3 linked regions of the Homo sapiens genome follow. The protein of the gene in region 2 purifies or fractionates together with the protein of the main gene of each other region. This does not show direct contact. Each region holds a gene or a part of one and is shown on either strand. Other genes may lie near its edges.

Evidence for each region.
Region 1: the proteins of ATP11C (region 2) and TMEM230 purify together in Homo sapiens (affinity purification with mass spectrometry; one large-scale study listed by BioGRID and IntAct). This does not show direct contact.
Region 3: the proteins of ATP11C (region 2) and PLEKHM2 fractionate together in Homo sapiens (co-fractionation; one large-scale study listed by BioGRID). This does not show direct contact.

Annotation. Positions count from the first base shown.
Region 1 is NC_000020.11:5,106,574-5,110,224, forward strand, and holds part of TMEM230 (transmembrane protein 230), read right to left. Parts: intron 2,873-3,651; coding exon of another isoform or gene 2,858-2,872; coding exon 2,759-2,857; intron 1-2,758.
Region 2 is NC_000023.11:139,786,527-139,790,177, forward strand, and holds part of ATP11C (phospholipid-transporting ATPase IG), read right to left. Parts: intron 2,963-3,651; coding exon 2,801-2,962; intron 1,818-2,800; coding exon 1,666-1,817; intron 719-1,665; coding exon 647-718; intron 1-646. UniProt on the Homo sapiens protein: Catalytic component of a P4-ATPase flippase complex which catalyzes the hydrolysis of ATP coupled to the transport of aminophospholipids, phosphatidylserines (PS) and phosphatidylethanolamines (PE), from the outer to the inner leaflet of the plasma membrane.
Region 3 is NC_000001.11:15,718,691-15,722,341, reverse strand, and holds part of PLEKHM2 (pleckstrin homology domain-containing family M member 2), read right to left. Parts: intron 2,609-3,651; coding exon 2,422-2,608; intron 2,006-2,421; exon of another isoform or gene 1,898-2,005; coding exon of another isoform or gene 1,855-1,897; intron 1,014-1,854; coding exon 954-1,013; intron 1-953. UniProt on the Homo sapiens protein: Plays a role in lysosomes movement and localization at the cell periphery acting as an effector of ARL8B.

The sequences.
Region 1 (3,651 bases), on a different chromosome or scaffold from region 2:
TTTTGGTATTTTTAGTAGAGACAGGGTTTCACCTTGTTGACCTGGCTGGGCTTGAACTCCTGACCTCAGGTGATCCGCCCGCCTCGGCCTCCCAAAGTGCTGGCATTACAGGCGTGAGCCACCGCGCCCGGCCTAATTTTTATGATTTTAGAGACGGAGTCTTGCTCTATCACCCAGGCTGGAGTGCAGTGGTGCAATTACAGCTCATTGCAGCCTCGAACTCCTGGGCTCAAGCAATTCTCTTGCCTCATCCTCTCAAGTAGCTGGGACTACAAGTATACGTCACCATGCCCAGCTAATTTTTAAATTTTTCTGTAGAGACGAGGTCTCACTATGTTGCCCAGGGTGGTCTCCAACTCCTGGGCTCAAGGGAGTCCTTCCACCTCTGCCTCCCAAAGTGCTGGGATTACAGGTATAAGCCATCAAGCCCAGTCTCAAACACTTTAAAACAGGGAGGAGAGCTCGCACCTGTAATCCCAGCAATGTGGGAGGCTGAGGCAGGCGGATCACTTGAGTTCAGGAGTTTGAGACCAGCCTGAGCAACATGGTGAAACCTCGTCTCTACAAAAAATACAAAAATTAGCCGGGCGTGGTGGCATGTGCCTGCAGTCCCGGCTACTTGGGACGCTAAGCTGGGAGGATGGCTTGAGCCCAGGAGGTGAAGAGGCAGCGAGCTGAGATTGCACCACTGCACTCCAGCCTGGGTGACAGAGCCAGAGCCTGTTTCAAATACAACAACAGCAAAAACAGGAGGGTAATTAAGAACCAAACTAGATACTTTATGTGTCTTAAGTATGTCCTACCACCCAGTGCAGCTCTGAGAAATAAAAGGGACTGGCAAGAGATGAAGCTCTAGTTATTGCTCTCACAGTTACTCAAAGGAATCTCAGAGGAATGTCATTCACTCTAGTTCGAATCTCATTCCATAAATCATTCATTGTATCATAAGAAACTTTTCTTTAAAACAAAAACAGAAATGACTTTACAGTCATTCATTTGTTAGATATATATTTATTAACTGCCTGGCACATAGATGGCTGTACTAACTTATGGGGATTTAAGAGATCCTGTCTCTACAAAAAATTTTAAAATTAGCTGGGTGTGGTGGCACATGCTTGTGGTCCCAGCTATTCAGGAGGCTGAGGTGAAAAGACTACTTGAGCCCAGAAGGTCAAGGTTACAGTGAGTCTTGATTGTGCCACTGTACCCAAGCCTGGGCAAAAGAGCAAGACCCTGTCTCAAAAAAAAAAAAAAAAGGCTGGGCGCGGTGACTCACGCCTGTAATTCCAGCGCTTTGGGAGGCCGAAGTGGGTGAATCACTGGAGGTTAAGAGTTCGAGACCAGCCTGGCCAACATGGCGAAACCCCATCTATACTAAAAATACGAAAATTGGCCAGGCATGGTGGTGCATGCCTGTAATCCCCCAGCTACTAGGGAGGCTGAGGTACAAGAATCACTTGAACCAGGAGGGGGAGGTTGCAGTGAGCCAGGATTGCACCACTGCAGTCCAGCCTGGGCAACAGAGCAAGACTACATCTTAAAAACAAAACAAAACAAAACAAGAGGCTGGGCAAGGTGGCTCACGCCTATAATCCCAGCACTTTGCGAGGCCGAGGCAGGATGATCACCTGAGGTCAGGAGTTCAAGACCAGCCTGACCAACATGGAGAAACACTGTCTCTACTAAAAATACAAAATTAGCTGGGCGTGGTGGCGCATGCCCGTAATCCCAGCTACTTGGGAGGCTGAGGCAGGAGAATCGCTTGAACCTGGGAGGCAGAGGTTGCAGTGAGCCGAGGTTGTGCCACTGCACTCCAGCCTGGGAAACAAGACTAAAACTCCGTCTCCAAAAAAAAAAAAAAAAAAGGAAAAGAAGGCAATTTCAGCTTATTCCAAATGATTAGTTGTTTGTTCCACATAGCAAGTAAACCTGCCTTATGAACAAATTCAATTCAAGGTTAAGATTCAGAGACAAATTTTCCAAGGTTTGGCTCATCGTTGTATCTGACCTAAGTGGCTGGAAGCTTCCCAGATCTTTCCAGATCTATTTTTATCTCTCCTTCAAATGTGGGTCCAAAGAGTAATTTATTTATTTATAAAGGATGGTTTCCTGCTACTTCCTCGTTGGCCCTAGTTCCACGTAGAACATTCTATTGTAAGGGGAAGTGTGCAAAAGGAGATGCTGTAGTATTGACTAGTTTATAAATGGTTAGGGTAGGATACAAACTTAATAAATACTGTGTTTTACTTACTATTTATCACAAAGAATACCTTTAATAAATTGGATCTCATGACATCAGGAAAGAAGGAAGATTCCCACAATCTGCTGGCTTTAGTAATAAGTTTCTCCCTTAAAAGGTGAACGGGCTTTGACTAAAGTGTAAATAAACAGTGATAAAAAAAATTCCACCTAACAAAAATTTTAAAGTTCCTTAAAAAAAGAAACAACAACAAAAAACTCCACTTAACAAAACACAATCTGATTAGTTTCTGAATAAAGTAAATAAAACCTGTAACTACAAGGCTCTCGCATTACAACTAAAAATTCTTAGAAATGGACAATACTGGAATTGGTTTGAAACTACCCTGCCACGGCCCTCTTCTGCGATTATGGCTGAAAGGGTCTCAGAGCTGAGTTTTCTTCTTGTTGCTCCTTCTAATCCCCAAGGACAGTTAGCAAAATCTCCATCTGGAAGGTCTTCCTGCTAACTTAACAGAAACACAGCCAGTCAGTCTTGTCAGTTCTCTTCTGCATTTACCTGAAGGTCAATGTAGCCATCGTCTGTGCTGGAGAGCCTTGAATATTTCACTTTACTACTGGGGATTCCAGTAGCCAGGTTGGTACGGGACGGCATCATAACACGCTGACACAGCTACAGTTTAAAAACAAAAAACCCGTTATTGTCTGTAGATGACAATGGTGCATTATAGCCAATGAGTTCAGGATTATTAGATGCTGTGCACTGGAGTTCTGGGCTGCCATGTCAGACTAGCAATGGGCAATTTACACTTCACTGCTAAATTTTCATTGTGTCAGAGGCATATGCATATGGAAAACCAGATATGCCTCTGACACAGTGAAAAGATTCTCACTATGTATTAAATATCTAGTCTGGTCTGTCCTTGTAGAATGACAGTGAAGACACTCACCAAGAATCACATTCCAGTTTATTTTGCCACCAAGATTCCCTGACTTTTAATTTTTCCAAAGTCACATAGAGACTAGGTAGAATAATGGGGACTTAAATCTAGGTCCACCTGACACCACAGCATTGCCTGTCCCCTGCTCCCGCTCTTAAGAAAAAGCAAGAGGAGCATATACTCAAATGATTCTCTTGTTTGACAGGGAGGGAGAAGAGGGCAGAGAATGGAATACACTCACATCAGCATTTTGCCTATTTCCCCTTGATAGAGATCAACCTTTTAATGCAAAAGATCTGTAAAGTTTCTTGCCGTAAATTTGTGGGGTTTTTTTGTTGTTGTTGTTTGTTTGTATTTTTTGGAGACGGTGTCTTGCTTTGTCACACAGGCTAGAGTGCAGTGGGTTGATCTCAGCTCACTACAACCACCGCCTCCCAGGTTCAAACGATTCTCCTGCCTCAGCCTCCCGAGTAGTTGGGATTATAGCCATGCACCACCATGCCTAGTTAAT
Region 2 (3,651 bases):
AGGTTTCTGAGATGGGTCTCAGGAGATCCTAGGGGCCAGAATGAAAGTCAGATAACATAATTATATTTCAAGTTCAGATGAGGAAATTCAAATTAATCACAGAGCCTAATTAAAATCCACCATTAAGATAAGGTGGCTTTGTTCATTAGGGTCTTTGTGGCAAAAGAGGAAATGTGAAGACACTGGAGCATCAGAGTACTTGCCCCGAGGCTCACACCTGAACATTCCGAACCAAACAAGGCTTCTGGTTTACAGCAAAGCTGCCTTTATTGCCTGGGCTTGCAATCCCAGAGTGATTGCTTGGACACTAGATAGCAGAAGGTTTCACATATATTCACTGATTTTTCCTGTAGCATGTGTTAGAGACCTGAAATGGCATCTAAATTTGAGAAACATTCCAGGCAAACTCTCATTCTGGCTACTGGACCCAGATGTGAACCAGATTGGAATTTCCACCTCAAACTCCAGTTTCTGCAATTCTATGTAACATGGCTTCTACCCCAACTATATTTACATAAAACTCTGAACTGGGAGAGCAGGGTCCTGTATTTTTAGTGGCATCATTTCCTTTGCTGCCCTGCCTGAATCCACTTAAATTTGACTATGGGGTTAAGAAATGACAAACATCAAACACAGAGCTACTTACTCTTCTATTTCTTTTCTTTGGTTCTCTACTCTCATATATCCATTTCGATTTCCTAAAAATGTGAACCCGTACCTATCAAAAACAATAAAAAAGACCTTGTGTATCTCTAAAGAATGATTAATTTTTTTATTATTATTTTTTTTGAGACAGAGTCTCGCTCTGTTGCCCAGGCTGGAGTGCAGTGGCGCGATCTCGGCTCACTGCAACCTTCACCTCCCAGTTTCAAGCGATTCTCCTGCCTCAACCTCCTGAGTAGCTGAGATTACAGGTGTGTGTCACCACACCCGGCTGATTTTTGTATTTTTAGTAGAGACAGAGTTTCACCATGTTGGCCAGGCTGGTCTTGAACTCCTGACCTCAGGTGATCCACCCGCCTTGGCCTCCCAAAGTGCTGGGATTACAGGCGTGAGCCACCGCACCTGGTCTAGAATGATTACTTTCAATGGGGTAACTCATGCTTGTTTATGCTTTTCTTCTCTTTCATATGATCTCAACATATAACTGTACTTTCTTTTCCTGGATAAGTTGATAACAGAGAAAGTCAATGCCCAGCCACAATTATTGTAACCAAGGGAGAGACAATTTGGGTTTCTGATTCTACGGCTAACACACTGGGTGACCTTTGAGCCACTTAATTATCTTGAACCTCATGGGTAAAACTGGACTTTCGGTTCTCAAATGATGTCAAAATTGCTGGGAGCACCTCAGAAATAACATGTGTTGTACAAAAAGTGGCCACTGTTATGTTATTTGCAAAACATAGTATGAACATTCAGACTTCTGGCTGGCATGCATAAATAGTAAGGCAAGTAATACCTACCTGTAACTATTTTCTTTTTAGTCTTAACTGGTTAGGTGTGGGAATTTTCCACAAATTTTTGGCTAAAGCAGTTGTGTTTTTTATTAAATAATAGGAGATGTATGTGCTAAGGTCACTGAAGCAAACGGAAAAAAACAAATAACTTCTGTCCTCCTGTGATTTCACTTTCTTAGGAGAAGTATAAGAAAGTATACTTTACCTTTTAGCTCCTTTCACCAAAGCTATTTCATCTGGTGAAGAGGAGATATAGGTTAATTCAGCTGATTCTGTAGCTCCATCAACAGCATCGTTTGTTTTGATTTCTACAGTATGACATAAACACAAGGCACGTAGAAACAGCTCTTCTCGATTCTGTGGAACAGCAACAAAATAATGATTATTATTTTTAATTTGATCACCCGGTAACTAGGCAGTGAACGGAGAAAATATATTAATGTGAGAGAATGTTGTAACTTCTAACAAACTTAGTAGCAGATACGTATAAATTCTTAACACTCAAATCTGCTATATATTCTCCTAGTACCTAATAAGAGTTCCTGGTTCTCAGCTAGCATACCCTATAGGCTGTGTTAACTCATTAAGGTTATTGTGGCACCACCTAAGCCAAAGCAGTGACTTCTTCATGGCCTAAAAAACTTCATTCAGTATCTAATTCACAATCTAGCAATAGCTCAAGTGTAGGGAGACTCTGGTTAATTTAATGCCTAGACACTCCTGAGACTTTAATCATTTGAACAGACATCATTCTTGGAGGAGCTTACATTTTAAAAGACAAAGCACAAAAAATTATGATCATACAGACAAGCAAGCTTTTACCCAAATGTCATTTCCCACAATTCTCTTTACTTGTAAATTCTACTCATTTACAAATTTCAGAAGTGTCAGTAAAACAAGAAAGGTGAATCCAACAATAGTTATTCTAAAGTCACTGGGCACAGTGGCTCATGCCTGTAATCCCAGCACTTTGGGGGACGGAGGGTGGTGGATTACCTGAGGTCAGGAGTTTGAGACCAGCCTGACCAACATGGTGAAACTCCGTTTCTACTAAAAATACAAAAAAATTAGCCAGGCATGGTGGCAGGCGCCTGTAATCCCAGCTACTCGGGAGGCTGAGGCAGGAGAATCGCTTGAACCTGGGAAGCGGAGGTTGCAGTGAGCTGAGATCATGCCACCGTACTCCAGCCTGGGCAACAGAGTGAGACTCCATCTCAAAAAAAAAAAACAAAAACACAAAAGTCTATGTCATGTGTCCACCTAAAAATTATTTTCTACTATGGAATGTTAACATGCATACACAGATTGGTTTCTTATATAAAACAATAATGCAAATGCACCTTATCTACTTTGTCAAAATATGTTAAAGTTCCATCAGTTTGAGATAATCCATCAACCTCTTGAGTTACACCTTTATATTTGTGGCCATCTATGCAGCATTCAATGAATTCCATGCTGTTTTCAGTGAGTGTTCCAGTCTTATCTGTAAATACATAATCCACCTAAAACAAGGACACAAACATATATTGTTAGTTTCTTCAGTGTGACTAATTTTTAGTTTGCTGTAACGCAAAGCTATTTTCATATCCATAGGAAATCACCCCTTCTAAGACTTCTTGTCAAATGTCAGGGAATTACAGAGACAATATTACCAAAGAAATGAGGAATAAATGAGTATTTTTAAAGACACCAAAATGCTATCACATGTCTAAGGTAGATCTACTCAAATGTAAAAGATGAATAGAAAAAAATGTGACTATTGGCCAGGCACGGTGGCTTATGCCTGTAGTCCCAGCACTTTGGGAGGCTGAGGCAGGAGGATTGCTTGAGCTCAGGAGTTCAAGACCAGCCTGGCCAACATGGTGAAACCCCGTCTCTACTAGAAATACAAAAATTAGCTGGGTGTGGTGGCACACACCTGAAATCCCAGCTACTTGGGAGGCTGAGGCACAAGAATTGCTTGAATCCAGGAGACAAAGGTTGCAGTGAGCTGAGATCACATCACTATACTCCAACCTGGGTGATAGAGTGAGACTCTGTCTCAGGAAAAAAAAAAAAAAGTGACTATTTTATCAAACTAAGAACGCTTCTCATTTAAGTTAACCTTTTTTAAGATAGGGTCTCACTCTGTCACTCAGGCTGGAATGCAGTAGCCATTATAGCTCACTATAACCTCAAACTTCTTGGCTCA
Region 3 (3,651 bases), on a different chromosome or scaffold from region 2:
TGAAACCCTGTCTCTACTAAAAATACAAAAATTAGCCGGGCGTGGTGGCACACACCTGTAATCCCAGCTACTTGGGAGGCTGAGGCAGGAGAATTGCTTGAACCCGGGAGGTGGAGGTTACAGTAAGCCAAGATCACACCACTGCACTCCAGCCTGAGCAACAGAGCGAGACTCCGTCTCAAAAAGTAAAATAAAATAACATAAAGTAAAATAACAGGGATCTGCTATGGCCTCAGATTTAAGGGGGAAACATTCACCTTATTGGCAACATAGCCTTTGCTTTGAGTAATCGTGGCAACCTGGGAATAGCTTTGTGAATTTATGAAGTGGAATTTCAGGCAGAAAAATGCCCAGGCACTGCTACTGCCCAGCAGACAGGGTGGGAGGGCTGGCAGATTTCCTTTTAATCTGCTTTAAAGCTTCAAAGAGATTCTGTCTGTAGGAAGTTTCAGCTGTACCTGGGCAGTTTCCTGACTTGGACCTCAACCACTCCAAAACACCCAAGAGGAAGCCATTAGGAACAGACTGAAAGAATCAAGCTCTTTCTCTTCGATGCTCATCTGACCCGCAGGAGCTTACAACCCGCATGTTTAAAGGCATGGTTTTCCAGAACAAGTCTTGGTTCACTGGGTCAGGCCCTACACACCCCGAGAGCATCAGCTGGCACTGGAATCAGGAAGGGTGACCCTGTATCCCCCGAAATGCAGCCACTTAGTGACTCCGAAAGGCCACTGAGCAAAGGCAGGAGCCCTGCACTGGGAGAAGGGATTTGCCTATGGCTAGAGGTTGAGTTTTCCCACTGCAGAATTCCATCTATTAGAACACCAAACTTGGCTTTATTATGATTATGGATATTATTATAAATAATAAGGAGCTGATTTGATACATGCAGCAAGCTTGGCATGGAAACATTGCAAAACAGGAAAAGAGGGTAACAGCGGACTCTGGCCCACCTTCCCAGTCTGTGCTGGGTACAGACGGCACTGCTGGAAACACATCTCCAAAATCATAATCTACAAAAACGAGGGACAAAACTGAAGATTAGAAACACAGGCAGTGGAAGGATGACTGGAGGGAGGGGAGGGGAAATGGGGTGGGAGACATGGGGAGAAAATAGGAGAGGAAAACTTCAACTTTCTACATTGTATCCAACAACCTTGGGGAAACTTACTAGGGCCCTGACTGCCTCTCAGCTCAGGCGCTGGCCCAGGAGCCTCCAACCAGCTGGAAAGACCTGTCAGGGTGACCCCTTTCCACATCCAGAAGCTGGTTCTGGCAGAGAGAAGCCTGGCTGCCTGTGCCTAGCTTTGTTTTCTACCTCTTACGTGCCTTCCCTCCATACCCTAGCAGGGCAAGGAGACACTGCCCTGGCAGCTGCAGTTGCACAATCTCCAAATTGCTGAGGGGACACCTCCATCCATGGATCCATCCTTGCCCTGGCTCTTCCGGCAAGGCCCACCCCTCCAACTCCTCTAAGGTGGCCCATGGGCCCAACCTAAGGAGACTGTGCCGCCTTCTTCAGCTTGCACGGTCAGCAATGCAGGTCTTGCTAACAGCAAGTTTGAGAGGGACCTCCCTTCCTGGGACATATAACCCGTGGTACAGCAGAAATAAAGAAAGGGGAAGGTCAAGGTCTCAATGCTGAGGCAATTCTAGGGTGCCCCAGGGCTAAATTGGGGCTGGGATCCCCTTCCCTGGAGGTGAGGTGGTGGGGTGAAGTAAATGAAGGGCTCTGGTCTCCTACAGGAGATAAAGAGGGGAAAATGGCCAGTTTTATCCATGAACACCAGGGCCTAAGGTTTGAAAGAAACCAGGCTGTTCCAGTAAATCATTGGGTCAAGACAACAAAATGACCTGCAGCTTCTTCCTCGGTCCCTGATGCAAAGGGTGCGACCATCCCAAACACATCAGCGAGCGCAGAAGGAACTCAGAGAAATCGGACGGACACACAGGACACAGTGGCAAGGTTTCCCTGCGCTTCAGACCTGCCTGGTTCTCTCTTCTTCTAGGGGTTGCTTAACCTCCTTCTGCAAAGAATGTGGGGTCAGACAAGCTCCCCAGAACAGGCAACACTCAACCCTGCGACAAGGTTTCCAGGTCCCACTGCTAAACCTTCCTTGCTTAGAAAACTGCCACAGGCATGTGACTAGAACCTTCTGGAAAAGGGTCTAACCTTAAAAAATATATATTTTATATATATATATATATATATAATTTCAGCTTTTTGTGCCCAGAATCCACTTTTTAGCCACCACAGGGACTCTGAGGAGATGAAGATCTGGGAAATGGCCAGCCCTGTTTAATTGCAAATTTCAGCCACCAGACCAAAACTAGCCAAGGAAGACATCACCCAGCCAGGCTTAAGCAGTTCAAGTCTGTTTCACAACAGGGGCTTAGCTTTTCTGCCCTGGGGCCACTCACCCTCACTAGATGGGGCAATCGCACTGTCATCCCACTCCAGGTTGGTGGAGGTGACGGAGTTGAAAGAGTTGAGGGACAGACTGTCTGAGCCGTGGACCGAGCTGGGAAGGCGGTCTTCAAAGTCCAGCAGGTACTGAGGTTTGTAGTAGTCGGGCATGTAGGGGGCCAGGTCTAGGTAAGGGGCATCCTGAGGAGAGAGTAGAGGAGGCCCGTTTGGTGGGAGGCCTCGTGCAGCGGCCTTCTGCAGACAGCAGGATCCAGGCCTGGGAGACACAGATGTGCCTCTTTGGGAAATCAATGGCTTAAGGTAGTAAATTCAAAGAAAAGCTGCTAAGAAGAGCAATGTGAATAGTGTTGGCTTTTAAAGCTGTGGACTTCAGGCTGATGGAAGACAGAGCTGTCAGAACTCAGCTACACCCTTTGATGCCCCCGCTATCTCTCTCTCTCTCTATTTATTTATTTTTTTTTTTGAGACAGAGTCTCACTCTGTTGCCCTGGCTGGAGTGCAATGACGTGGCTCGGCTCACTGCAACTTCCACCTCCCGGGTTCGAGCGATTCTCCTGCCTCAGCCTCCCAAGTAGCTGAGATTATAGGCGCCCATCACCACACCCCGCTAACTTTTGTATTTTTTTAGTAGAGACGAGGTTTCGCCATGTTGGCCAGGCTGGTCTCGAACTCCTGACCTCAGGTGATCCACCCACCTCAGCCTCCCAAAGTGCTGGGATTATAGGTGTGAGCCACTGCGCCTGGCCCAAGGAAGGTCATTTGATTAGGACGGGGCAGCTGCATCCATTTTGAGCCCAGTCCAAGAGGTGCCTGGGAGCCTCTTTGGCTCTATGTGGGCCAGCATCCCATTTGTACAGGGTGTGATGGGGAGAGAAACTTGAGAACTTGAAGAGGGTGGCTGAAGGCTCTTCATGGAGCTGATGACACTTTTCAGAACCCCAGAAGCACCAGGCTGAAACTGCCTTGTCCTTCTAACTCTTCACATCCTAAACATGAAGGCCAGTTCTTCTGGGCTAAGATACTCCAGGCAATGTGGCTTTTCTCCAAGTTGGATAGGGAGATAGGAAAAAGTCACCTGAACCAGGAATTCTTGCCATCACTTCTCTTCTCACTCAATTCGATGGACCCTGAAACCTTTCCCTCGCCCAAAAAAACAAGTTTTGCTCAAGCCCAGTCATACTCAACAAGCTCCCTCAACAAGACCTGAGAAATGAAGCCACCGC